4 linked regions of the Homo sapiens genome follow. The protein of the gene in region 2 purifies or fractionates together with the protein of the main gene of each other region. This does not show direct contact. Each region holds a gene or a part of one and is shown on either strand. Other genes may lie near its edges. The genes, in order: ISL2, IDI2, FAM76B and LMX1B.

Region 1 (8,987 bases), on a different chromosome or scaffold from region 2:
ATGCAGCCTTGGGCTCCGCGCAGCGCCCGGAACCCGCAACGCGGGGCTGCCACTGGGACAAGGAGAAACCCCGATCCCAGACAAAATAGGAAGCCTCAAATCCAAGGGAAGCCTTGCTGTGAAGGTACAGACATACACCATCTGGAGCGCCCAGTTCTCCCTGGATCTCCCAGGGCTCGCCCAGAAAAGGGCACGCAGATACCGCGGCGGAAGCGCAGCCCCCACCCGACTCGAGCCTCCGGCCCAGCGGCTGCTCACCGTCTTGTCGCTGTGCTGCTGCTGCTGCAGCTGCTTCATGAGAATGGATTTCTTCTTGTCCTTGCAGCGCTTGTTCTGGAACCAGACGCGGATGACCCGCGGGCTCAGGCCGGTCATCTCCACCAGCTGCTCCTTCATGAGAGCGTCGGGCCGCGGGTTGGCGGCGTAGCAGGTCCGCAGAGTGTGCAGCTGCTTCTCGTTCAGCACAGTCCGCACGCGGGTCGTCTTCTCCGTCTGCTTGTGCACGTGCGGGCGCAACGCGGGCTGCCGGCCCGACCCAGCGTCTGCCAGGACAGGGTGAGGCCAGAGGTTAGCGAGGGGCCGCCACCCACCCGCCCCGAGCCCAACCTCCGGGTGGCCCAGCCCCCCGGGGCCCGATTTCGTTTCTGTTTTATTCTGTTTGTTTCGTTTAATTGTTCGTCTTCCTCTCCATCTGTTCGCCTTACTCGGAGAGAGCTGTGCATTTTCGTTCTTTCTCTCGCTCCCGGGCCGGACTGCCCCGCAGCGATCTCTCCCGAGCTCAAGCAGGGCGCGGGAGCTCGGCGACAGGCCGCTGCGGGGAGGGAGTGGCTGCTCAGGGATGTGCCTCCTCCAGTCGCAGGACCCTCGGAACGAGCGAAGCCCTCCGGAAGAAGTCGGAGTTTCAGAGGAAGAGGAAAGAGGCTTGCCCAGGACTCTGGAGAGGGAAAGGGACCGACGTGGACCCAGGGCGAGGCGCTGCCCAGGGGACTGGGTGGGAGGTGCGAATATGCCGGGGGCCTACGAGGGCCCTTCCCCTCCTTCAGAGCCCATTTGGACAGGGCCAGGCCACATGTGTAGAAGACTCATCCACGGTTATGGACGGGCCTCCAGGGCTTGCAACAGTTCCTTCCTGCCCGCCCTTGGGCTTCGGCCCCTGTCTCCTTCCTCAAGGCTCCAGGTTCCCCAGCCCAGTGGCCTCCCACCGACCAAGGTGCTGAGCAGCCGCTGGCACTCTCCTCGCTTGGCCCCAGGTTCTCTCCATCCCGGGGAAACAGTGACTGATTCCAGAGCCTGCACCCTGAAGCCCGAAACAAACAAAGGGGAGCCTCTCCGAGATCCCAGATGGGGGTGCACTGAATACCCGCTTGCTCCCATTTCACATCTCCATTTGATCCCGACCCATATATACCGTGGATCTGTACTGCACCATTTCGGTTTATGTTCCCCTCTACGAATTTCTAGGTCTGGACAAATATTTACAAATAGCCCATCCAGCCCAGTTTCCTCTTTCTATAGGGAGGAAGTGAAGATCCAGAGAGGGGAGGAGCGGGGCAAGGCCACACAGCACCCAGAGGCCCAGCCTGGTCTACGGATCTGTGCTGCAGGCCTATGGCTACCTGGGGGAAACTGCCTTGCCTGGGGTGGAGGCACCTCTGTTTCTGTTCAGCCGTACCTGCCCATTATACACTCAGACCCCATCTCTGGGCAGCTGCTGATTAGGACCCAGAATATTCCAGTGACAGTCCACTATGCATTGATACTCCCCCTCCCCCAGAAGAACCTGGCTAAATTGTTCATCAAACTGGGCCTCAAAACAAGATGGCAAAAACCCCTCTTTGTTGGGTTCTTGGCTCCTGGCTGACCAAGCTCCTGCCCAGCTCCCAGTTTGGAGCTGTGTTACTTACACACATACCCCTGGGCAAACCTTACCCTCTGACAATAACACATATTCCTCCAAGAAATTCCTAATACAAGCCCCAAGACGGACACCACTTAAGATTCCCTGTTGTCATCCACTCTTCTGCTCCTAGCACTGTGCCCTGCATGTTCCTGGTCATGGAGAACACGATTCTGCACAATTCTCCGTGCTCACACACTCATACACACGCAGTTTCTCCCGAGCACACGAGAATACACACAGCCTTGTTCCCAGCACACAGTTCCGCACTGATACAGAAAAACACTATCCCGGCAGACGGAACCACACACAACTGACAACTTCTCGTTAGGGACACAAGCGTACCCCTACACACACGCACGCACATACACCCCGCTCACCCCGGCACAGGCCCCGGCGCGCTTACCGGGCAGATGCAGGCCGCGGGCGCCGGGAAGCGGGCCGGGGCTGCGCGGGCTGCCGGCCGCGGCGCGCTCGAGCAGGAGGCCGTGGTCGGCGCGGCAGAGCAGCTCGTGCTCCCGCAGCGAGAACTCGTCCCCAGGCAGCAGCTGGCGGCTGCACACGGAGCAGCGGAAGCACTCGATGTGGTACACGCTGTCCCGCGCCCTCATCACCAGGTCGCTGCTGCTGAAGCCCACCTGGCACTTGGCGCACTTGATGCCGAACAGCCTGCGGGCCCAAGGTGCGGCGGTGTCAGCGCTGGGCCTGCGGCCGCCCTCATCTCCCTGGCTGCTACGGCTCCGGCGCGCGCCCAGGACACTTTGTGGCCACCAGGAGACTGCGGTGACCCGCCTGCGGGCATTCCCGGGCCCGGGGGAGCGCTGCGGCACCCGTGCGGGATGCGGATGGCCTTCTCCCTGGGCAGGGCCGGGGCGCGCGGGCAGGCCGCCATCCCCAGTCCCGGCCCCGGCCCCTGCGCGCGGTGGCCCAGCCCGCGTTCCCGCCGGCCTCACCTGACATAGTCCCGCTTGCAGTAGGTCTTCCCGTCTCTCACGAAGCACGTGCACGTCTCGTCCAGGTACTGGCTGCACTCGGCACACTTGAGGCAGGCCGCGTGCCACTCGAGGTCGGGCGACACCCGCAGGATAAACTGGTCGTGGATCTGACTCCCGCAGCCCACGCACATGGCCGTCCCGGGCTTCTCTGCCGGGGAAGGGCGCGGGGCCGCGTCAGGCCTGACTGCCCGGACCCAGGCCGGCCTCGGCTACTCCAGCCCCAACCCAACCCGCTCGCTCTCTTGCTCTTTCTTTCAAGACTTGCGACCATAAGGAAAGATGATGAGCTCTCTAAAGGTCCAGGGCATTGGAAACGAAAAACCAGTATCTTGTGGATTGCTGAAGGTTTCTTCTGTCCCCCACCCCAAATATTTCGTTATTACATTCATTAATGACAGTCGTTTTGTCGACGTGTCTTGAAACTAAACGCAAACACGAAACTAAGAAGAGAGTAAATACACAGGCACTGCGGACGCCTGGATATCAACACCTAACGGTGCTGTCCTGGCATTTCCGCTCACACACTCCCACTCACAGCGGCTGCCTCCTATCCCAACACAGACACATCGTCTTTCGGCAGTCCCCGCTCATCCTCTCAGACATTTCTTAGTTTAAATATCCCAGAGCAAGCGAAAGAAAGCTTCCTAGCTTTGAAAAACCGAAAGGCAAACAAACAACAACCAAAAAAAAAAAAACCCACATCCCTAAATCAAACCTAATTGCCTTTGCGCAAAACAGAAGCAGATTTCGCAGCCCGAAGTCATCCTAGCCGGCTTGAGAAATAGTGTTTACTTATAAAATAAAACAACAGGATTCCCAAAGATAAGCAGTCCTGCAGGAGACATGCATTCGTTTTTCCTCTCCTAAACTATTCTGACAAATAGAAGCCACTTGTAGAATCCACTAAACATTTTTCTGCATTAGAAATTTTGCATATTAAGCATACACACACACCCCACCCCACACACACACAGAAATACTTACTCTTGGAATGATCACCCATAGCACCCAGAAAAGGATAATGAAAAATAATATCCACCATGCAGAAAAAGAGATGTGCGCAAAGTGTGCGGCCAGGGGCAGAAGGACGAGGGTCGCGCGCCCGGCCTCGGCTCTTTGCTAACTAACTCCTACTGCCCCGCGGAGTTGAAGGAGCGATTCCGCACCGGCCCGCACGCAGCATGACGTCAACACGCACTAGCCCCGGGCCGGAGCTGGGGGCGGGACCTGTGGCGTCACGAAGCTTCCCCAGAACTGCCGGGGATGCGGGGGAGGTGATGGGGATCCAGGGGCTGATGGGCGGGGTGGGTTGGGTTGGAGGCTGGGGGTGAAGGGAGATTGGCTGGGAGGAAGTGGGCCAACCCTGATTGGCCCGGAGTGAACAATGGAGTGCAGCCCCCCCACCTCCGAAACCTACAAGGATCCTCTCTCATGCCCCGGGCCTGGCAATCTGGACTGGACCTTGCGTCACCGCCGAGCTGGCTCCGCGGCCGTTACAACTCTGAGCTTCCTCTTGGACTTTCGGGGCGGTTTTCCCAGGCGCGCTGGAGCTGGGTGATGGATACCTGAGGGTGGAGATGGCTCTCCTTTAAGAGCTCCCTTCTTATATAAATTAAAAAAAAAAAAATTAAACCCACTCTCAGGACGAGAGAGCCGAGGACAAGGGGGATCCGTTTGGACGTGACCGTCATCGTCCAGCTGGTCACCTTTCTCCTCTCATGTGCCTTTGTTCTTCGGGTCCAAGCTAGAGAGAGTGTAGAGAATGACCACCTGGGTTCTGATAAACTCTATTTAGACTTTCCTATCCACACACACGTAGAAAACTTTAGATTGGGGCATTACGTGGGTTGAGCCAGAACCCAGATCCAAAAGCGCTCACCCGGGACTGGGACGGGTCCTGACTCCATCCTTGCTGCTGCTGCCGCTGCTGCTGCCCCTCCTCCCTCTCCTCCACCACCACCTCCTCCTCCTGCTCCACTTCCTTTTTTTTGTTGTTTTGTTTTGCTTTTAATTTGTTGCTGTTGTTGTTTTAAATGTAACATGGACTTCCCCGCCCCCTCATTTTTCCCCCATCCAAATGGCATAGCTCCTTTTAGGAACACTGCTGGGGTCGATTGCGTGTCCAACTTCCAAAATAAAAGATTTTTCTAAACTCTTGTCCTTCATTAACAAACCCACTGCAATGCAAATAATCAGAAACGAACGTAAGGCGCTGGGTAATTTACAGTGGTATCTGCGAGGCGGCGGCTCGTTGGTCCTGAGAAAATCTGAGAGCTCTGAGCACAGTCCAGGCATTCTTTCAAAGAAATCGCTGTGGGTTTTGTTTGAAAGGGTTCAAAGACCGGCCCATGAATTATAAATAACATTTATCCAACCATGGTGTCTGTTCTTGTTTTCCCATTAAAAGGAGTACCAAGAACTTGGTGTGCGCCTGGGTGGGGCGCGAGGTGAAACGCCTGCGGATAAAGTGTCTCCACCGCCATTCCAGACCCTGCCCAGACCTTCGGGCTTGTGGGCCTGAGGGCGCGGTCGCTACTGCCGTTCTACTAAGAGCATGAGGTTGGTTGGCGTCGAAACGGATGCAGCCGAGGGCGCAGGCCGAGGCTTTGCAGAAGGCTAGGGCGAGGCCCCGAGTGCACGCTAACATTATTCGACCATGGTCCACGGTGAACGTTCCTCACCGGCCCCGCGCTGGGGCGAGCGCTTTAAGCCTCGTCCAGTAGCGTCCGGCTTTTGAGCTCCGCCTCCACCTTTAGGAGGTCTAGTCTTCTCACCGGTCCGGCTTTTTTTTTTTTTTTTTTTTTTTTTTTTTTGAGATAGACTCTTGCTGTGCCGCCCAGGCTGGAGTGTAATGGTGCGATCTCGGCTCACTGCAACCTCCGCCTCCCGGGTTCAAGCGATTCTCCTGCCTCAGCCTCCTGAGTAGCTGAGATTGCAGGCGAGCGCCACCACGCCCCGCTAATTTTTGTATTTTTAGTAGAAACCGGGTTTCACCATGTTTGTCAGGCTGGTCTCGAACTCCTGACCTCGTGATCCGCCCACCTCGGCTTCCCACAGTGCTGGGATTACAGGCGTGAGCCACCGCGCCGGGCCACCGGACCGGCTCTTGTTACAGTTTACCACCCGTTGGCCAATAGGCCATTTCTTGCGTCTTTAGTCAACAGTCCCCCAAAGAGCGCTCACCCTGAGTGTGTGCGGGCAGGTCAGGGGTTGGGGGATGCTGCGTTTGAATGAATGTGTTTATGTAAATGGGGGACAAGAGCGAGGGGGTGGGTATCTGTGCCTGAGGCTGTGCCAGGACACCTGTGTGACCTCAGGCATCTTATTTTAATTCTCCTTCCCTCAGTTTCCTCATCTGTAAAATGGGGGTATAATAATTGTAGCTATCTCTATTACATAATAATTAAATAAACTGTTCTCTGGAAAGGGCTTAGAGCAATACCTAGCACAGAGTAAGTGCTCCATATGTGTTAATTATGACAGTTATGACTGTGGCTGTATCTTTATGTTGGGAGCCTCTGCCCACCCTGCCTGCGTGTGTCTGGATGGGGAGGGGAGGTCTAAGTATGTCTCAGTATGTGTCATCTGATGATTTCTTTGTGATTTCGATGTGTGCTTGCTGTGTGTGTGTCTGCTGTGTAGATGGGGTTTGGAGATGTGTGGTCTGTGCATAGACTTTGTGTACAGGTTATATCTGTGAATGTGGGTGCACAGTCAGAACTGGGAGGGGACTCGGTGTGTGTGTCTGCATGTGGAGTGAGGAGGTGCGTCTGGCCCAATGGCCCTACCCTTAGGTGACCCTGGACTAGGCCTGGCTCCCAGCACCTACTAGCTCTTGCTCGCCAGGCCAGGAGCAAGCACATCTATAATTCAGGGGTTCAGACAGCTGGCCAGGAGGGGGCAGCCCCAGGCTGGAATCGTAGTCCCAGCTTTTAACCGTCTCCTGCCCAGAGAAACTCTTCCTTCCCGTCCAGAAAAACCTGTCCTTTGAAACTTCACTAGGGAGGTGGGGATTGGAGAGGGTCACCCCTCCTGGGATGCTAGGAAGCCAGGTCAAAACAAATATTTGTTCAGGGCCACCATGTGCAAAGTCCTTGTTGTTAGCCTATTAGGTCTTAAAAGTAATGCCATGTGGTGAGTAGTATTGGGCCCCTCCAATCCTCGAGGAAACTGAGGCTCAGAGAGGGGAAGTTACTGCCTCAGGTCACAGGTTAAATCATTGCTGGCATTGAACCCAGGTCTATCTGGCTCCATCTTGCTTGCTTTTTTCACTGTGCCATTGAAGAGCCACATGAGTGTAGCTCCATCATTCACCCATTTCACATCTCTGGAGCTGTAAAACCAGGGATCCATTTCAAAATCACTCCATGTGTGACTTCTGGTCACAGCCACCCCTGAGAGACCAGCACTGACATGGGAGAAGAAAACACCTGCACCTGCTGGGCACGGCCACAGGCACCATTGATGTGGCCCTACCCTGGTTCTCTGCCTCCTGGCTGCTCCCTTCTCAGGTATGGAGGGGCCACACACTCTCCACATCCCAGGCTGGCATGCAGGAGACCTGGGTGCCTCCTATCCTGGGTCTTAGATCACTTTCTCCTTATCAGGAATGGCAGCTTGAGCTCCATAGCTATGCTTTATCCCATAAAACTAGCCTGTACTGGGGAGAGTTCAGAAGCACAGAGAAGTCTCCCTGATTATTTTCTCCCCAAAACCTCCTCTACCACATCACTTACAAAGGCACAGCCCCATGCACAATGTCCAGCCAACACAGAGGAAGCTGTTGCTAGTGTGGGAGCATCAGTCCTACTGTGAATATCAGGAAGGAAACTGAGGCCTGGTGACCTGTTACCCAGCATGTGATGGAGATGGAGCCGGAAGCCAGGTCCCCTAACCCAGGCCAGACCTCTTCCTGCTGGACTCCCTCTGGATGATCTTCTGCTGTCCAGGGCTGAGACCTTGCTGCCCAGCTTAAGTCACTGGACCAGGCTTCTCCTCTTGCTCCAGGCTCCATCCCCCTCCATTCTCCTTCTGCCCCACTCCCAAAGGCTTTTACTCTTCTCCAAAGGTAGTTGGAGATGTTGAATACAGCAGGCCAGAGACAGCCTCAGCATCCACATCTTCACCCACCACAGGCATCTGAGAACTTGCTTTTGAGATAGGGATGGAGCACCATGTTTCAAAGAAGAAACTAAGGCCTGGGGGCAGGAAGAAACTTGGCAAGTCAAGGTCAGGCTTCAGGCTTCCTGACATCCAAGACCCATGCTCTCTCCCCAGCTTTGCCTGCCTCCCCAACCCCAGATTCCCTTTGAGCAAACAGGTACCCACAGGCACTGCTGGGCCCCTCTCACTCCTTCCTGAGTCCCCTTCTCTCTTCCCTAAGTTACTGAGCACGTGCTGTAGCTGGGGCTCTGGGCTAAGCAGCCGTATGAGGTCTCATTAAAGTGCCCACCAATCTCCTGAGCAGGAATGGCCACATAATTTGCAGATCCCATTGCAAAATAAAAATGCACGACCCTTTGTTTAAAAAATTATTAAGAATTTCAGGCCGGGCGCGATGGCTCACACCTGTAATCCCAGCACTTTGGGAGGCCGAGGTGGGCAGATCACAAGGTCAGGAGATCGAGACCATCCTGGCTAACATGGTGAAACCCTGTCTCTACTAAAAATACAAAAAAATTAGCCGGGCGTGGTGGTGGGCGCCTGTAGTCCCAGCTACTCGGGAGGCTGAGGCAGGAGAATGGCGTGAATCTGGGAGGCGGAGCTTGCAGTGAGCCGAGATTGCGCCACTGAACTCGAGCCTGGGCGACACAGCGAGACTCAGTCTCAAAAAAAAAAAAAAAAAAAGGGAGGGGGGAGGGATAGCATTAGGAGATATACCTAATGTTAAATGACGAGTTAATGGGTGCAGCACACCAACATGGCACATGTATACATATGTAACTAACCTGCACGTTGTGCACATGTACCCTAAAACTTAAAGTATAATTTAAAAAAAGTTTGAGTATTTATGTATGTGTATGTGCATGTACATGCACAGAAAAAAATCTTGAAATATAATCATCAAAATTTTCAAAAAAAAAATTTCAATGGCC
Region 2 (6,516 bases):
CGCTAGAGTGTTGCTGTTTATTTCCTGGTTTGGCACAGTATGGTTTCATGAAATTGGAGCTCTGTATAAACTGAAAAAGACAAAATAAGTAAAGCACTTGTTGCTTTGCTGAAAACTATGGTTAACCCTATATAGGTGTGGGAAATTTTTGTCACTGCATAATATTACAAATATTTTGAGTAGACAGTGTTTCCACATTTAATGGAGTATCAGTTGCTTCAGATTTTCAGAACTGGGAAGATTTACTGGTTTAACTAGGTTGTTTTTGATGGAGAAAAACCTTATTTTCTTTTGTAAGAGCTGGGAGCAAACACGTTTATGAGTGTGTCGGAATCCCGTGCTTAAAATACGCTCTTAAATTATTTTCTAGTCTTATTTTACAATGTCTCATTGTAGTCTGTCTTCAACTATTTTATCCAAAATAAACCTCCAGAAGAAAGTAGTTTTCATTTACTTAGCTCATGTTTTGGTTTAGTTATAGTCGCTATGGATTTGGCCAAATAAAAAGGCAAACAACATGACATTTCTATTTTGTTTTAAAGCAAAAATACTTTTGGGGGAGTAAAATGTTGCTGGAGGCATTAGGCAATTAAATATGGGCATTCTCCTATTTCTGTGGCCCGTCCCTGAAGTTACATGTTCAGTAAAACACAAAAACACCGCCAATGCCACCTCAAAAGCACCTGCTGGGGAGCGTTGGGGTGAAGAGCTGTGGGGTCGGAGGGACCTGCCCAGGGGTCCGTGTGCTCCTGGAGCTCCAAAGACACACAGGGGTCCAAGAGCCACCACGGATAAGTTATCAAGTCACACAATCAACATTATAGCTGAGGAAAGGACTTTAGTTAATCACACTTCTGGATTACATGTGGCAATTTTAAAAATTTACCAGGGCTGGGCTGGGCGCAGGGGCTCAAGCCTGTAGTTCCAGCACTTTGGGAGGCCGAGGTGGGCAGATCAGGAGGTCAGGAGTTCGAGACCAGCCTGGCCAACATGGTGAAACCCCATCTCTACTAAAAATACAAAAATTAGCCATGCGTGGTGGTGGGCATCTGTAATCCTAGCTGCTCGGGAGGCTAAGGCAGGAGAATTGCTTGAGCCCAGAGGCGGAGGTTGCAGTGAGCCGAGATCGTGCCACTGCACTCCAGCCTGGGTGACAGAGAGAGACTCCGTGTGAAAAAAAAAAAAAAAATACCAGGTCTGGTTTTTGAAATTCTTTCTCCGTATTAAACACCAAAACTTAACATATAGTTTACTTTGTGTTAAACAACAACAGTATGGCCGGGCGCGGCAGCTCATGCCTGTAATCCCAGCACTTTGGGAGGCCGAGGCAGGCGGATCACGAGGTCAGGAGATCGAGACCATCCTGGCTAACACGGTGAAACCCCGTCTCTACTAAAAATACAAAAAATTAGCTGGGTGTGGTGGCGGGCGCCTGTAGTCCCAACTACTTGGGAGGCTGAGGCAGGAGAATGGCTTGAACCCGGGAGGCGGAGCTTGCAGTGAGCCAAGATCGCACCACTGCACTCCAGCCTGGTCGACAGCGAGACTCCATCTCAAAAAAAAAAAAAAAATACCAGGTCTGGTTTTTGAAATTCTTTCTCCGTATTAAACACCAAAACTTAACATATAGTTTACTTTGTGTTAAACAACAACAGTATGTTTTAAAGCAAGTATGTCTTTATTTGTAAGCATATTACTGAAACGATCAAATGAACAGAAGTGGATAAACGTCGAGTCACTTGGCTGAGACCATACGCATCTTCCGTACTGCTTGTATTAGGATGCAAGATTGAATGTGTCTTTTTTTTAAAAATGCAGCCTTGTGTTGCACTCTGAAATAAGTGATTTAAAAAGAAAAACATGATACAGAGATCCCATCCTGACCTTGGAGGCTTGGATAAAGCTGTGGGGAGACAGCCTCATGGTCCAGCCAGGCTAGTCCGCCTGCTTCAGGACTCTCAAGATCTCCCCAAGACTTTCAGGATCAGCTGCTGTTAATCAAACAAGTGCTTATAAAATGGAAATTGGGACAAAGGAAATGTTAAATTTCCTCCCTGCAACCAGGCAGATGAGAAATATGGAAATAAGGAAAAGGGAAAATGAAGATATGACAAAGTTGATGAAAAGGTTGAAATAGTGATTTATACATGATGGGCAATCAAGTGCCCCTTTTGCCCTGTTTTTTGGAGAGGGTGTATCATTGCCTCAATGGTGCGTCTGCCTGCACTGAGGGCATTACACATGGCTGACTCGACCTCCCTGCCTCTCACACTCTGTGTATTTTGTGAAGCTCCACAAACGGGGTCACGTCATCCAGGTGAGGCCACCACCGGTACAGAAACCTCTCGGCAATGGTTCTTAGCCAGGGGGTGACTTTGACTTCACCCCTCGCCTCCCTCTCCAGCAGCTCCCACAGCTCCTCCTGGGACAGGTAGAGGATGCTTTTCGTTTCACTGGGATCCGGGTTCAGAGTGACGTTTTTCCTCACAAGCAGAAGGTAACAAATTTCATGCTCTCCCCAAATTCTGTCTGATTTTGCCTTGTGGTGATAGATTGTCATGAACACAATGTCCTCTGGAGAAATCTATTGACAGAAATTGGTGCAGTGTTAACAACGCTAATGTAAAACACAGAATTTACAGAAAAATAGAGAAAATAAACACATTTGTTTTCCTCAGAAAATGAACACTTTCTTTGGTAATTGATAATTTCCAAAACCTCGATTTTAGCTAAGTAAATTTTTGTGGACTCAAGTCTGAATGATAAACCGGCTTTGGTTTCTTGGTTCCAGTAAACCTGTCTGTCTTCATTTAAAGAACTAACCGTGTCACACACACATCCTCAACAGAAAACCCCGTAGAAACCGGCTAGCGTTGTCAGGAGAACATCCATCCTCTCTTAAACGTGTTCTTGAGTGGATGAAGGTAACACATGCTCACAGGATCCTGGACATTCTTTCTACACTTGAATTTCTTTCTTTTTTTTTTTTTTGAGATGGAGTCTCGCTCTGTCGCCAGGCTGGAGTGCAGTGGCACAATCCCGGCTCACTGCAACCTCTGACTCCCAAGTAGCTGGGATTACAGGCGTGTGCCACTACGCCCAGCTAATTTTTGTACTTTTAATAGAGACGGGGTTTCACCATGTTGGCCAGGATGGTCTTGATTTCTTGACCTTGTGATCCGCCCGCCTCGGCCTCCCAAAGTGATGGGATTACAGGCGTGAGCCACCACGCCCGGCTTGAATTTCCTCTTCGGTGTGTGGTCGACAGATTCCTGCACAGTCTCAACCCTGCCTGGGACACATAGGGACTCACACTGCCCCATCCACAGCTACATTCACAGCCCCATTCACAGCCCCATTCACAGCTCATTCACAGCCCCATCCACAGCCCCATCCTTCATCCTCATGGTGCTTCATGAGGTCAATGGTGTAGATCCAGCCTGGACTTTGTTCACCGTCTGCCCGCTGCCAACCTGGACTCCCGTGGACACAGCTGAGACTGGATGCTGTGTGTACCTGCTCCCCAGGAATTCCCAGCTCTGCTTGCAGACGCCTCTGGGCTGCCCTCCTCACTCCGATGGCATCCTTTTCTTCCAGTTCTGCTGGGTTGTATAATGGGTGGCTACTACAGGAGTCGGTAAAATACCCTGGAAAAAATGCATGTGGGAACATCCCTCTTTATTCCTGAAAAGTGAATATATTAAATACAAATGCAGATGCTTCATGTAAAACCATCATCCGTCATCAGCAGAAGACAGCCTGGCGGGGGGAGTGGGTTTGTCATGGGCTCTCAGAGCAGCACTCGCCTCCAGCCTCCACGGCTGTGGGCTTGGTGAGGGTCTTCCACATGACCACCTGGCGGGGCTGGCCCTGACCGCTCCTGCGGCCCTTCCTGCAGATGTGCACACACATGTCCCGTGGCACTATCCCAGTATGTCTTAGGAGAGGGACTGGTTCCTACTCAGTTTTGTACCCACAGAGGACCTGAGATGCCATGGGGTGGCGGGAGGAGGTGGTGGGGCTGTGGGCTGGGTGGCTGCACCAGCTGGGCTGAGGAAGCTGGGCTGCACTTTGAGGGTGGTGATCAGTGAGCATGGTTTCACAGGAAGACTGCTGGAATACCTTTGACCAAGTTTCCTTACTGAGAGGTTCTACTTAATTTACCCAAGTAACAGCAATAGCGCTATGACGGGAGGTCACACTCTCCTCAGTAAATCTCTGTTCCCTCTCGTTCCTCAGACCCTCAGTGCTTCCTTCGGTCACTCTGCAAGGAGTTTGGCTGAAGTTGAATCCACTCTTGCAAGTACAAGAGCTGGTACTCCCACCTGCCCCTATGTATCCTGGAGGCGGCTAACACATGATAGGAAATCTTAGCTCCAGGGGCTTTATTTGCAAACTGTTGACTATGTACTACAGTTGACCCTCTTAACTTTGCAGCTCCTGAATTTTTCTGAAACAAACTTTGCATTCAGCTCCATCAAGGAGCCCGTGAGTACAACTTGACCAGCAAGTATGGTGGTGGGTTTGGGAATGGGCAGGATGTACCCACTGCGGCTCCGAGGAAGAACTAAGGGAGGAGAAAACCTCGGCCACAGCTGGCCGTGCTTAGCCATTCGCTTTAATGGCTCAGGCAAGGTCTGGTTTTGAAAATTTGAGGACAGCCTAGGCCAAAACACTTTAAATGACCACAATTGACGTAAATGCTGTTCCCCTCTAAAAAATTTTTTGGCCGGGCCCGGTGGCTCACGCCTATAATCCCAGCACTTTGGAAGGCCAAGACAGGCATATCACGAGGTCAGGAGATCGAGACCATCCTGGCTAACACGGTGAAACCCCGTCTCTACTAAAAATACAAAACGTTACCCGGGTGTGGTGGCGGGCGCCTGTAGTCCCAGCTACTTGGGAGGCTGAGGCAGGACAATGGCGTGAACCCAGGAGGCGGGGCTTGCAGTGAGCCGAGATGGCGCCACTGCACTCCAGCCTGGGTGACTGAGCCAGACTCCATCTCCAAAAAAAAAAAAAAATTTTAAGTTGTAATTTTAAGAAGTACAAGATAATTAAAACTCTAAGACCTGTAAGATAATTTTTATTATTATTACCTAGTTAATTTTATGCTAAATGCTATTTTAATCCCCTAAATCCTTAGGTTGATAAATTCCTCTGCATTTAAGTAACTTGCCGTTGCAAAGAAACAACAAAACAAAAAAACCCAGAAACTCATATAGTTTCTTACTTTTTTAAAAAAGAAAACCCAGCCTACTGAAGAGCTATCAGCATAATTAGCATCTGCCTAAGCTGCCGATTTTCTGCAGGATGAGCTGCCAGCTCACCACAGTGCGGCACTGAGCACCAGAGAGTTCCTGTCCCAGATTCCTCCGGTCAAGTCACATGAGATGCTCTCTTCAGTCCGGGGCTTGGTTGAACGGACTCACCAGGAAACGTGACTTTCGTGTCCGACCTCTGCTGTATCAGGATTCGATTCTTGGTGTTAAACAAGACAACGCTGAAGGCTCGGTGCAGCAGCCCTGCAAAGGTAAGTGCCATTTGTGTGAGTGCATGCCTGGAGTCTGTACGATTGTCCTTCGTGCTTTTTGTCCTCAGTCTGTTTCTCGTAGAAAAGCCTGTGATTGTGGCACCTGGGCAGGGCAAAGGGGACTGCTGGATGCCCAAACACAACGTTTCAGAATCTCAGCGGATTAGAACACTCGGGAAACTAAAAATAGATCTACCAGATGACCCAGAAATCCCACTACCAGGGCAAATATCCAAAATAAAAGAGATCAGTCTATCAGAGAGATATCGCAGCATTCCTGGGTGCTGAGCACCATTTACGACAGCCAAGATATGAGATCAACCTGTGTCCGTGGAGGTTTGAAGGGTTGAAAACATGAGGGTTAGATACACAGTGGCATACCATTCCACCACAAAAGAAGAATGAAATCGGGCCGGGTGCGGTGGCTCACGCCTGTAATCTCAGCACTTTGGGAGGCTGAAGTGGGCGGATCACGAGGTCAGAAGATCGAGACCACCCTGGCTAACATGGTGAAACCCCGTCTCTACTAAAAATACAAAAAAATTAGCTGGGCGTGGTGGCAGGTGCCTGTAGTCCAAGCTACTCGGGAGGCTGAGGCAGGAGAATGGCATGAACCCAGGAGGCAGAGCTGGCAGTGACCTGAGATTGCACCACTGCACTCCAGCCTGGGCAATGGAGCAAGACTCTGTCTCAAAAAAAAAAAAAAAAAGAAGAATGAAATCCTGTCATTTGTAGCAACATGGATGGAACTGGAGGCCATTGTGTTAAGTGGAACAAACCTGGCACAGAAAAACAAGTATCACATGTTCTCACTGCTATGTGGGCTCTAAAGAAGTTGATCTCATGGAGGCAGAAAACACAATGCTAGACACCAGAGGCTGCGAAGGGCAGTGGGGAGGGATGACGAGAGGGTGGTTAATAAGTATAAACATACCGCGATAGAGAAGGAATAATATCAGCTGTTCAATAGCACAGTAGGGTGA
Region 3 (6,396 bases), on a different chromosome or scaffold from region 2:
ATTCTCGTATCTCCCTCCCTATACTATTTTGAAGCAAATACCAATCATCATACCATTTCATTATAAATATTTTAGTAGGTGTCTCTAGGACTCTAAAAAGATAGCTGCAACACCATCATCACATCTGAAAAGTTAACAGTACTTAATTCCTTAAAATCATTACATAACCAGTGTTCAAATTTTCAGTTCTCATACATGTTAAAAATTTTTAATTTCTTGATTCCAGATCCATATCAGGGTCACATATTGTGACTGGTTTATATTAAGTACCTTTTATACTATAGGTTCTCCCTCCACTGATTCCCTCTGCTTGCAACTTATTGAACAACTGTGCCAACTGTATCCTTTTGGTGTCACTCAACATGATCTTCCATCCTTTCTATTTTTGGTTAATTGGTAGATGCTTCGTCAGATTTAGGTTTGATTCTTTTTGGCAAAACTTTATAGGTAGCAGTGTATTCCTCCATCAGAAAGCACTTAAGAATGTGTTTGTGTATTGTCAGTAGCTGCTGATGACCAATCCTTAACTCCATGAGAGGTTGCAAAATAGTGATGTTGCAATTCCATCCTTCCTTTTTCATTAGAATGTTTTAAAGAGAAACTACCCCCCATCTACTACTTACCTACCCAATGGTATAGTTTGTATGGGAAATGCAGGGAATATTAAAATGATAGTTCTCAAAATGTGAGCTCTGGGCCAGAAGCAGCATTACCTGAGAACTGAGAACTGAAAATTCTTAGGCTCCATCCCAGACCCACTGAATCAGAAAACTGGGGATAAGGTCCAGCAACATGTGTTTATCATGCCCTCCAGGTAACTCTGATGTATACTAACGTTTGAGAAACAAGGGACTACACCTGAAGTCTTGAAATGCCCTTGCTAAAAGCTGTTAGCTTTTACTACACTTTATAATACCAAAGTTAGGTTCCAGATTTTTTCCCAAGCACAGTATCTGCCCACCTAGTCTACAAATGAAAGAATCACACCTTCAACTTTTAACTTATCAAACAATCTAGCATGGTACTAGTCATGTTCCAAAGCTTTCAAAAACTTAACTATAGCTTGAAATACTTGCTCAATTAGATGCAAATTTATTTCTTCCAGGAAAAATAACTATTGCACTAAAGTGGTCTGAATGGACAGACAGGAAAATAGTTTCTAATGTTTGGCCTAAACTTCTCTCATGTATCTGTTGTTTCAGGGTTTCATACTGGAAAAAGGGGGTAAAATGTAGATGAAGCTATGTAGGCTCAATAATGGTCCCCCAATATGTCCATGCCCGAACCCTTGGAACCAGTGAATACATTACCTTATATGACAATAGGGACTTTGCAGATGTGACTAGGTTAAGAACTCGAGATGGAAAAACTACGTTGTTTGTGCAGGTGGAGCCAATAATGTTCTCATAAGGTCCTTATGAGAGGGAACAGAGGGAGACACTCTGAGAAGGTATGATGACAGCAGCAGAGAGAGATTTGAGATGCTACAATTTGGGCTTTGAAGATAAAGGTCAATGAGCTCATAGCATGCAAGGAATGCAGCTCTAGAAGCTGGAAAAGGCAAGAAAACAGATTTTCCCCTACAGCCTCCAGAAAGAAGCAATCCTGCCAATACCTTGACTTTAGACCAGTAAACCTGATTTTGGACTTCTGGCCTCCAGAACCATAAAAGAATTAATTTTTGTTGTATTAAGACACTAAGTGTGTGGGAGTTTGTTACAGCAGCCATTGAAAACTAATACAAAGCCTTTGACAAGTTTTTTATTGTGAAATATTGGATCTAGAAAAAAGTACAAAATGTCAACAGTCAGATGTGTACAAGTACAGTATTTCAATAGTCTATACATGTGAACAGCTTAACAGGTTCACTGCAGAATGCATATTTAGACCAATATAATCTAAAAAGGACTGCAATATTCACAGGCTATTAATACATAAATAACTTGAGTCAAAATGACCCTTACTGGTAAATGCTAATTAATAGTGGAAAACAGGCTAAAAGCACAATACACCACACCATAGTATCTCCTTACAGGTCCACATTTAAAGAATATCAGTTTATTATGTCAAAACACTACAGAGATCCAGGACTGGGACTGAATTACTAATTTATACAATTGCAAAAAAATTTAAGTTATAAAATAAGGTCATGGAATAAAGAAGGGTATTTAATTAGGACTAAATACTGTGAAGCCCATGAAAGGGTTTTAGCCTTGGAATTTACAAAGCTAAATTATTAGACTGTTAATGTTAGCTAACACTAAAACTGAATTACCTTCCATTTTAATGTTAGCTAATATTAATATTCAACTTTTTAATTTTGATGTTAGCTAAGGGGAAGGACGAGGACAACTTTCTTTTGTAGTTTCTCCAACAAGGTGTAAGAACTATCAAAAAGTAAAACCATAATGACCACTGTGGACTGACAAATGGCTATGAAACAAGAATATAAAACATTACAAATTTCAAAGAAAGGTAATAACTATCTTATGAATTTAGCAAATCCTGCAAACGTTAAAATCCATGTTAAGGCATTATCTATCATGGTTGAGAGTACTAAATTTAAGAAAATTATTACATGAAGATCCCATAAAAATAAACTGGTTTAGTTTACAAGATTCTAACTGAATCTTTTTGTATCACTTGAAAATTACCCTATATTATGCTTTCAAAATGGACAAAGAATTATTTGGTATTCACTTTATAATGAACTATGAGAACAGTCTATTGAAACACGTCATGTTAAAAAAAAATTGTTTCAATCATGTGTTCTTAAGAAAGCCAATCTTTGATATGACATTCACAATCAATGCTTGTATAAAACAAAACCTTTAAAACTTATAAATTTAGTAACAGTTTTACATGAAGCAAATTTATCTTTGCCCATAAATTATTAAGAGAAGCAACTCACTCTATACAGTGTATCTAGCAATACTTTAAAATCAAACTAAAACTCTGAACTGATAATAACTAGGAGATAAATTCTATTTCAGGCTGAAAACCGCTGGATCAGAATATAGTCAATAACTTCATATAACCTATCCCACCCTACCTTAACCTTTTATAGACAATTTTAAAGACTTTAGGACAATTTACTTATAATGCCTGAATCTTATAGTAGATTCCAATTTATTCAAAGATTATCACAGATTGGATTAAAAAGATCATTTAATTTTTTTCAGATTTGCTTTAAATTTACAAATTACATTGTACATAAATATTAACTTAGATAACCACACATAGGGAAAGCAGATACATGGATCATTGCAGAAACATTAAAATTTTTAAAAAATTTTATAAAATATAAAGCAAAACATGTAACTCACACAATACTAATATGAAGCCACATGACATAAAAAATAAAATTACTCTTTAAGAAGCAACTTAAAATTAAATCTTTGGGGAACTATTTTGACATAATTAAATGAATTCAAAGACCAACAGCTTCCCTTATCACACAGAAACAAATCACAAAATTTTCTACAATCTATATGCATTATCAGTTAGTTCTAAATGTAATCTCAAACATTTTACTAGCAACTTTGATTTCCTTTTGAAATAGGCTTCTGTACATATGCATTTATATACAAACATTTATTAAACATGATTTTAAAACAAAATGTATGTACAAAAGATCAGCATTCCTATAAATAAAAACATTAGGTGGCAAAAAGGCACTTGTAAGTAAAAATCTACAGTAGTTTTTACAAAACAGAAACACATTTTACCTTAGATACTGTACAATAAACATTAATTCCTATACCAATAATGAAAATGCTAGGTTACTAATGTTAATGATGTAACTTTAAAAAACAAATTTACATATATCTGAAGTTCATTTAATAAAAGCACCGTGATTTTCTCCTAAATTCATCTTGATGCAAAGTAAAAACACAATTCCCAAAAAACCAGTGTTCGCCATTTTTCGAGTTTAAAAGTTTTTGTATTTCTAAATTGAAAACTGTTTGTCTGAAATTAGCATAGTGTAAAACAAAAACAAAACAAAAAAACCCTGCTGCTCTGACTTCTGAAACCATACCTACTCTATTATTGCATGTTGCGTTTCATAAAGAGCACTACTCATGCACTCCTTTACAACTGTTTAATACTATTGCTGGCAAAAAAGTTCCTGGATATCAAATAATTAAAAAGTTACTTCAAACCAGTTGAAGTTTTATTTGAATGTTTTACAACTTAAAAAATGCTGTATATCAATTACAAAAGTGAACAGGAAACACACCAATTCATTTGGTGTGCAAAAATATTTTTCTACTACACAGAATTTAAGGGCTTCACAGAATTTTTTTTCCCCAAATTTACATTGTAAGAAGAAATGCTAAACAAATGACTTTCTCAAGGAGATGTTAGTATGCTTCCACTTTTGTCAAATTTTTTACCCTTTGATAATGCTGCGACCTGTTTGAGTAGTTCTCTGTTTTTGGCCTGTGGGAGACAAAAACATTCAAGATTAAAAATGTTTGAAATATTATTAAGTCATGCTGAAGAATACTACTTATTTAATACTGTTTTCATTTATATAAATGTTTCACTAAAGCACTAACATTAAATGAAAGAGTTGATACCTTTACATTCATCTCTTTAAGGATGAACATGCAGAAGGAAAATTCTAGATTGGCTCATCAGCCCCCTTTGTATATGTCATTATTAATATAATTGTGTCCAAAGATGCACAATTGGTTACAAAAAAGGAAACAAAGTGAATCCACTTAAAAGAAGGTCCAAATTTTAATAGGGAAAAGGTGTTTGGCCCTTCATCTTAAAAACATGAAAACTATGAAAATAAGTTGTAATTTACAATTAATAAAATCAAAGAATGAATCAAGATTTGGGAGGAGTATTTCCTGGCAAGCTGTATAAGGTCTTTTTTCTATGTTTACTCTCTTGTAGAACAAGCATAAGAGGTCATTTTTGCAAAAACAACTCAGAATTTGTTACTTTGCCAAATGCACCCAATGATATTCAATTTTTTTTAAAGCACCCATCAGAACCACTCATTATCTTGTTGTTCCTTTAGTTACCAGTCATCTGACACTGATTTTAGTGTGGTTTGAGCAGTTCCACATCATCATTTCCTATCTCATGAAAGCTTGAATTTTTACAAAGATTCAAAATTTCATTTCATCATCTGACTTGAATTTCATTATTAAATGTCCATCCATCACTAGTTTAGTGAAGAGGAATGTGTAAGTACAGTGAATATTTTCACATTTTGACTGCCTTTGTCACCTTATTCAGTCTCTTAAATATGAAAACTTAGATAGTAAGGATCCCTATATATACAAATACATTAATGATCAAGCATTTTTGTAGTTTGAGCCAAAATGGGGAAAGTGATGAAAATAGAGCACTGCCCTAAAATTAACACATTTTAAAAAGATATCCTCTGACTTATGTTTCAACACCATTTTCCTTCACAGGTTCCAGGAATTTTTATTATATAGACAGACTTTTTTAATCTCAGTACTTCATATTTTATTCTAATTTTAGCTTTTTACGGGCAGATAACACTCTGCCTTCTCTGTATGCCATCTTAAAGTGGTTTCATGAAATAACCTTTTTCAAACTTTATTCTTCCATTCCCCCACCCTTCTTCTCCAATCACTCTTGCTAATTAACACCCATGACCTCTAAAATGCAAATATTCTCAGTACTATCTTATATGTGCAAATCAAATAATTTTTTATGTTCAGATGCATGATCAATAGAACTTTCCTATTCAGTGGTTATTAATAACTAAGGTGGTAACGAAAAACTTCAATTTCAAATTCAGTATCAATTTCAAATTTTGAGTCTGCAAATTTGACTCAAAAAGATCTCCACTAGATCTGTTAAGTTATATTTATCTAAAAATGTTTATACTGATACAAAATAGTTAAAATGTGAATCTCCAAGTTCTTATCTCAATTATCAAGAAATAAAGTGTTTATAATTTTCATATTTTAAGTACAAAATACAATAATTTGAACATTAGGTCTTCAAAGCAATTTTTCCATTTAATGCTTTGGTAGCTAATTTCCAATTTGCTTTTAATATATTTATATCACTAATAAAGATATTTCTTAATAAATTACATAAGACAAAAGTCTTTATGGTAAATAAATAACACAATTGTTAAGTACAAGTCCAAATTATTCTAATTTGAATACTTTAAAAATGAATTTTATGCCATATTTCAATATATGTACATTTAAATTGTTTTATCCTAAAATTACTTCATTTTGCAGCCAGCCAAAAAAAAAAAAAAAAATCAATGAAATTCTTTACAGACTCTTAAGAAAGCTAAGTTTTAAAGTTTAGACATGTTGGTGCAAAGGAAAGAATATCAGGATTAAGAATTACATAGATCCTGCTTTAAATCCTGGCTTACTTACCAGC
Region 4 (7,000 bases), on a different chromosome or scaffold from region 2:
GAACCGCCGAGAGGTGGGCCTGGAGGGGTGCGCGGGTGGAGGCCGCTGAAAGCCGCCCCATCCGCGTGTCCGGACGTCGAAGGAAGCTCTCCCGCCCAGGGGAAGGCAATTATTCTAACCTTTTTCTTCCGCTGGCCAGGGCTGGCCCTACAGGGGGCAATCCGCGCAGAGGAGGTCAGTGACACCCTGCTCCCAGCCCTCGGGTAGCGACTCCCCCTCCCCACCCCTCCCAGGCTGGGCGTTCTGGGGGAGATTAGCAACAATGTAGAGCCCGCACCTTCCGGAAGGTCGGTATAGGAGGACTTAGAGAACCCATCCGGCTTTGGGAGTTGGACCCGCCTGGGGGGGAAATCTGCTACAGGGTAACTCTGGGCCGGGAAAAATCTGCTACAGAGTTAACTCTGGGCCTGGGGAAGTTGTTCAAGCTGCTCAGCCTCAGTTTCCTCCCCTAACCACAGGGTTGGGACGGTACAGACAGTGAACTTCACAGGGGCTCAACAAACGCCAATGCCTTGCCCTTCTAGAGGCACTACTGCAGGCTGCCTCCCTGTTCAGTAAGGCGCTGCTCCTGCAAGTTCACATCTACACTGACCATGCTCAGGAGTCTCTTGGAAAAAATGGGACCTACGTGTCTCAGTAGTAATGAGGGCCCATCCACAGGCTGGCCTTGGCTCCGAGGAGCAGCCTCTGGCATCCAGACCGGCCCCATGCCCTTTTCAAGGGAAAAAAAATAAAAATAAAAACACAGGCTCCCAACCTGGGTGAGGAACAGAAGGGTGGGCAAGACCCCTCTGGGAGGCCTGTTCAGGAGGCTGCACTTTCTGGGCCTCCCACGCAGGACAGACAATGCATTCCTGCCAGACGGGGCTGCCTTCGGCTCATTTCCCAGCAGGAAGGAAGAAAACATACATTGACTGCATGCCCAACACTGGCTGGCATCTGGGTTTGTTCCACTTTATTCTCAGAGCAACCCTGTAAGATTGGAATTACTACCCCCTTTTCACAGAGAAGGGAACTGAGGCTCAGGAAGAGCTGTCAGTCCTTCCCTAAAGGCCCTTGGCCTTTGTCACTGGGAGATGGAGACATTCTGGATCCCCATTCTGTAACTGCCAACAAGCTTGCTCTTCCTTTGAGAAAATGTGCCCCACCCAGGACCCCTCCATTTGGAGGAGGTCACCCCAGAGCACCTTGATCCTCTGGAACCCCAAAGGCCTGGGCAGCTCAGTCCTGGTCTGGCGCCCACACCCAACAGCCCAGTAACTATAGCAATCCAGGAATCACACGACAAGAGTCACAGAGTCCCCTTGGAAGGCAGGAGGCGGGAGAAGGGGGAACAGCAGTCACACCCAACTTGTCCCATCCCAACCCAGTGCTGCTCCTCCCCTCCCGTCACCGCTGCTGAAGTTCCTGGGGAGGCGCTTGGGGGAGGGACCCCTGGCGGCCCTGTGTCTCAGCATGCTCAGCTCATCTTCAGCTACCCAGCAGCTCGGTGGCCTCCTCATTCCTGCCAGCCCCAGTGGGCATCGCTGTTGCTCTGGGTGGCCGTCACAACCTTCCCCAGCTAGCCACCTCCCCACAGTTCCCGGGGAAGCCTCTCTCACAGCACTGGCCCGGCCAGGAAGCAAACATCTTTGTTTCTTCTGGAACCAGGCTCCAGGAACCGGGTTTTTCCTTCAGCAACACTTCCCCCCAGTTCACCAAGTGCCAAGGCCAGCCAGGTGCTCTGCCATCAGCCAGGACATTCGTCCAGGGCTGGTCCGAGCCAAGCTCCCAATTGAGACAAAGCCTCCCCACAAATGTACCCACACATCCCCAGATCCCCAGCCCCTCATCCTCCCTTTGGGGCCCCAAGGTCAGCAGGGCAGGTCCAGCGGCTGCCAGTCAAAATGCTGAGCAGAAATGGATACAATATTATCCAGGGAATAACAAAGGAAGGGCCCACGCAGAAATTTATTTGTACTGATCAGGCAAAGCAAAGGTAAAGGGCAGAGAGGAAGTGCTGTCAGCCGGCCTGAAACCCAAGAAAGTTGCCATTCCGAGCACAGTGGCCCCTTATGCCCCACCACTCCTCACCGCAGCAGTAGTTAAAGCAAACACAAGCCCTTCACTGCCCCGTCAGTTACACCTTCCCCCCAAAATTACACAAACTTTGAAACATTTTTCTGAGAGAAGATGGATGCTTCAGGAGACTTGAGGTCAAGGCTAGGCTGTTTAAAGTCTATTATCAACAAATAAACATTTACTGCAAAAAAAAAAAAAAAAAAAAAAAAAAGAAGAGAGAGAGAGAGAAAAACCCTATAGGCCACCGGGGAACCAAATCATGTTGCTTTTGGCATCAAATGACAGGAGACATTTATGACATGAATGGAGAACACCAGCCGGTCGATGAAATGGCAAACGTCTGCCACTTTGCTTCCTCTACCTTCGTGAATCAACTTTTTCAAATATGGTTTTCAGCCTTAGCCCTCTCTCACTACCACCGTCTCTCCACTTCTGACTGCAGTGGTAATAAATATATATAATTTTGGTTTTGCTCTTTGCTGCCATCAGCACAGAATCTGGTTGGAGAGGGCCAGAGGAACTTCCGGCTGGGTCAGCCAGACAGCCAAGGGCCCTGGGTCCTCGGGCACCCCCAACTGACTGACAGCTCACACGCGGCTCCTTGGATGAGTAGACTATCCCTCCCTTCCTCCCTCCCCTGGCTGAGGCTTGACTGTGGTGTCCAACAAATTGGAAGTTATAACTCATGTCGGTGAGAGTATCCTCCATCCTTCAGCCTAACTGATGCCAAAGTAGGACTGGTTTTTTTCCTCTTCCTTTTCTTTATTTTTTAGAAACTCCAGAGCCTCAGGACAAAGGCGGCTCCTTGGAGAAGCATCGCCAGCCACCCATGGGTGGAAACCTCACAAGGCCACAGAGCCCGAGCTGGAGGGGCCTTCTGAGTTCCTGGAATGGTGTTTCTCCACCTTTTAAACCTCATCTTCCTTCTGAGAAATAGACAAATCCCCCAGACCTCTCCTCCACCTACCCCCTTCTCCATTGGCTGAGCTTTATTTTCTGTGGCTTCAATCACAAAACAGTAAGTACAAACAGTTCTTCAAATATGAATTATTAAGCTTTTCCAAGCTATATGGAGGCCCTGGAGATGCCAATTGTTTCCCGGTGGAAATACTGTTGCTCTGGACCACCCTCTGTTTGCCACCAAAGGAAAAAGAGCCAGCACACCCGGCCACCCTCCGTCTGCCCCCAAGGAGAAAGAGCACAGGACACCCGGCCACCCTCCGTCTGCCCCCAGGGAGAAAGAGCACAGCACACCCGTCTGCCCCCAAAGGAGAAAGAGCCCAGCACAGCTGGCCACCCTGTTGTGGCCCTTTCTGATAATGCAGTTGGCACCTGTGCGCACCCACACAATCAGGTTTTCCACCTCTCTTGAGGTGCAGGAGAGGATAATGGATCCCCCGGAGAATGGAATATTTATTAAAGTTCCACCAGGTGCCTGTGTAATCCTCACAACCACCCTGCAAAGTCACATCATCACCCCCAGTTTGTTGATGAGGCCCCAGCTCAGAGATGGGCAACCACTTAGCGAAGATCACACAGCTGCTAAGACTTGGGGCTGGGAGGTGAACTCAGGTCTGACTCCGAGTCTAAAGCTCTTTTCATGGCTGAGGAAGGCAAGACTTTTACAGTGTCCTACGAAGGGAAAGGCAATGGCTTCCCCAGGGTGCTCCTCATCCTCCCTGCATGGAGAGGCTCATGGTAAACCCTGTGTACCATGGAACCTGGGTAGAGAACCTGTTGGCAGTGTGGTGTGTGTCCTTGGAGACAAGGTATTCCCTGCCATGCTCATGGTGAGAAGAGTAACAGCAATAACTTCCAGAGTATTAATAACAAGCCAGGCAAGATGCCAGGTCCTTTGGGGCACCTTATCTCAAGTCCTTATAAGAATACTTGCCCCCAGCAGAATAAGTCCCCATTTCACAGAGGAGGATCAGGTAGGTGCCACGGCCGTGGGTCTCTAAGCCTGGCTCCAATGGACAGGGCAGGAAAGAGCTGACAGTCACCAATCACATACCCCAGAGGAGATCCTCCCAGCCTGCTTCCCCCACTCAAGAAAAATAGGGCAAACAAATAAGGCCACACCAGCCCAGCGCCCGGGGAGTCGAGGGTGAGCCAGGAGTCACTGTGAATAATGCCTCCGTTCAGCAGCAGGGGACTGCAGCCTCAGGAAGGCCTGTGCTTACCGTCTTGCACACAGCCAAGGTGCCGGGGTTAAATGGAGAGGTACCCTCCAAAGGGCCAGAGGGTCCCCAGACTTGGGCTGCCAGGGTGAGCCCTTTGGGCCTCAGCCCCCAGAGACAGCACCATAGAAGCCTTTTTGTAAGGCAAAGTCCTGGCTCCTCCTCCCAAGCAGTTTCCAGGACAGGCGCTCTGCAGCCCTGAATGAGTTTGATGGTTGGGGCAGGGGGGCTCGCTGGTTGGGGTACACACTGGGGAAGGGGTGCTGCTTGAGACTGGCACCCTGCAGGAGGGCCTATGGGAGGCCTTCCAGGCTGGCAGAAGAAGTAGCCAGAGAAGGCCGGAGCCTGACTGCTCTCCCCCTGGGCCACACCCGAACGCGGGAGCTGGATGGGGAGTGTGGGGGGAGAGGTGAGCCTCCCAAGAAGGTCTTTCCCGGGGTAAACACTTCCAAGGAAAGGAATGCGCAGGGCAGAGCGGTTGGGCCACTGGAGCCACAGCCAGCTGGGGGAAATTTTTTAAAAACTCACCCCAGGACTCAAGAGGGCTTTCTGTGAAACTCAATCAAAGCCTCGATGCTCCCCTGCTGCCAACGTAGGCACATCCTACCTGGACAGGCGAGCCCAAAGGGCCCCCAGCGGGCCCGGCGGAGCCCTGAAGTCTGTGTCGCCGAGAGGCTCGGCCGCCCGGGCAGGCCCTGCGGGCGGAAGGACGCCGCGGCCCCGCCGCCGAGGTAGGAGCGCGGCCCGGGCCGGAACCCCGCGTCTCGCCGTGCACAAAGGCGCCCGCTTGCACCCCAGCGGGTCTCGGGTCGCCAAACCTGGGAGCTGTCTTACAAGCGATTAGACTCCATTTTGTGACAGATTTTTGGACTCTCCCACCGACCCTCCCCCCTTCCGGAGCCTCCTCCAGGAATTCTCCACCTCTTCAGGATAAAAACCCTTTCCAGACGAGCGACAGACGGCAAGAAAAGAGAGTTACATAATTCTATTCGGCCAAGCCGCCAAGATAAAAACATGGGAGGGGGGAAAGTGCCTTATTTTTCATTTGTTCTCCGGTGGAGGACGGTGAGAGGTGTTCTGATTTGGGGGAGGCTGCGTTTCCTCTCCGTTTCCTAACTGGTTTTCTGTCCGAAAAGGCTGCTTTTTCTTTTTTTTGAAGGAGCCCCCAAAACTCACACATGGGGAAAAAGGAGACTTTTGGAGTTAAGAGTGAAAATGCCCAAACTCCACGGCCGGCGCTCTGCTCTGCCCGCCAAGGATGTACAAGAGGATTTTTATCAAATTCGGCTCAATGTGCCCCAGTGTCAATTAATCACCCCCGTGGTGCGTAAGACAACTTGGCACTTCTGGGTGTCTGGGATCTTTGAGAACAAATCGAAAGGAAGAAGAGACATTTACTAAAAATGGCAACCTCTTTTTAAGGACGGAGCCCTGCAACTCAGCCAGGGGTGAGGACACATTTTTCAGAAGTTGTGTTTGGTGGGGGGATTGTTAATTTCTCAATACCGCTGACGCACAGACTCGACAATATCAAGAAGGCACGTTTCTGCGCCCGCTTGCTTGGATTCCTGTCTGAAAAGCATTTACGCACAGATGAAATAAATATGCATCTGCAATTCTCAAAGAAAAAAAGAAATGTGAATAAAAAAATTTTTATTGTGCAAAGAACATCCCTTTCCAGTGGCTGCTGCCTGCCTGGAGCGGCGCTCCATCTCCCTGTGAAACGACTCACTGGCTATTTGTCCTGATAACAATCACCCCACCCCCCACCCCCCACCCCCAGCACATCCTGCCGGCCGGCCTAACGCAGATACCTAATTGGCGTTATTGGAAAAAATAGAATGAGGGTGGAGGAATGAACTGTCCACAGCTAGAATAATGCACTCCCCACCCCAGGCTTCAGCCCCACAGGATCCAGACTGAGTGAGGTCTTCGGACCTGAGATTCGCCCTGTGCCAAAAATCATTCTCAACACACCGGACTGCACTGAAGAAGCTGGCTGTTAGGTGACTCTTTCCTTTTCTTTTTAAAACAAATATACTTTGGACAAAGCAGTAGCAAATGCTTAACGTTTAATTGTTTTGTAAGATGAGGGGGTGAGCCGCTCATCTCTAAGGCAACATCCAGCTGAAATTTCGTGACTTTACCATTCTGTGCCTGAAGAACCAGGGGTTATCCTTTCCTTTTTTTTTTTAAAGAGAAGCTCCGTAAATAATTATGGGGAGTGGGGGGAGGGCAGAATATGTACACGCGATTCATAAGTCTTTTCAATATATTAACAAGTTTTTTTCTTTTTTTTAAGCTGTGCAAATGATTTGGAGGCCGGTTTTAGTTTCCTGGGCCCCCTTCCCCCATGTGTTGTCGTAAAGGCTGGTGGCTGAGCTGGGTGTAAGTGGCACTGCCAGAGCTCGGGATCAGGCAAGCAGAGTGAGGCCAGGGGTGCAGGGCGTGGTGGGGAGGGGGCTAGAGGCTGGTGCACCCTACAGAGGGGCTCCTCTAGCCAGCCCAGAGCCCACAGCCACATCTACCCCAAACTATTTTCCCCATTCAATTTGTGCTGCTCTATGCTTGGGCTGTGACTGAACGGACTGGCGTCTCCCTCTCCCGGAACTAGAATCATATTAGTTCAGAGCACAGCACAAAGCCGACCTACGGCAGTGTGCCTAAATCTGGGGTGCTTCCTACTGAGAGGAAGGCCTCAGCTGCACTCTGGGACCAGCAAAACAGCTGAACCTCTGAATGGACTCCAATCCCTACCC

What was found.
Region 1: the proteins of IDI2 (region 2) and ISL2 purify together in Homo sapiens (affinity purification with mass spectrometry; 2 studies listed by BioGRID and IntAct, with this or other methods). This does not show direct contact.
Region 3: the proteins of IDI2 (region 2) and FAM76B purify together in Homo sapiens (affinity purification with mass spectrometry; 3 studies listed by BioGRID and IntAct, with this or other methods). This does not show direct contact.
Region 4: the proteins of IDI2 (region 2) and LMX1B purify together in Homo sapiens (affinity purification with mass spectrometry; 3 studies listed by BioGRID and IntAct, with this or other methods). This does not show direct contact.

What each region holds. Positions count from the first base shown.
Region 1 is NC_000015.10:76,331,831-76,340,817, reverse strand, and holds the start of ISL2 (insulin gene enhancer protein ISL-2), read right to left. Parts: upstream 4,046-8,987; 5' UTR 3,935-4,045; coding exon 3,877-3,934; intron 3,041-3,876; coding exon 2,851-3,040; intron 2,567-2,850; coding exon 2,304-2,566; intron 543-2,303; coding exon 259-542; intron 1-258. UniProt on the Homo sapiens protein: Transcriptional factor that defines subclasses of motoneurons that segregate into columns in the spinal cord and select distinct axon pathways.
Region 2 is NC_000010.11:1,017,251-1,023,766, forward strand, and holds the end of IDI2 (isopentenyl-diphosphate delta-isomerase 2), read right to left. Parts: intron 5,534-6,516; exon of another isoform or gene 5,526-5,533; coding exon 5,433-5,525; exon of another isoform or gene 5,387-5,432; intron 3,648-5,386; coding exon 3,517-3,647; intron 2,683-3,516; exon of another isoform or gene 2,585-2,682; coding exon 2,267-2,584; 3' UTR 1,660-2,266; downstream 1-1,659. UniProt on the Homo sapiens protein: Catalyzes the 1,3-allylic rearrangement of the homoallylic substrate isopentenyl (IPP) to its highly electrophilic allylic isomer, dimethylallyl diphosphate (DMAPP).
Region 3 is NC_000011.10:95,767,208-95,773,603, forward strand, and holds the end of FAM76B (protein FAM76B), read right to left. Parts: intron 4,444-6,396; coding exon 4,354-4,443; 3' UTR 1,746-4,353; downstream 1-1,745. UniProt on the Homo sapiens protein: Negatively regulates the NF-kappa-B-mediated inflammatory pathway by preventing the translocation of HNRNPA2B1 from the nucleus to the cytoplasm.
Region 4 is NC_000009.12:126,616,928-126,623,927, reverse strand, and holds part of LMX1B (LIM homeobox transcription factor 1-beta), read right to left. Parts: intron 1-7,000. UniProt on the Homo sapiens protein: Transcription factor involved in the regulation of podocyte-expressed genes. Essential for the specification of dorsal limb fate at both the zeugopodal and autopodal levels.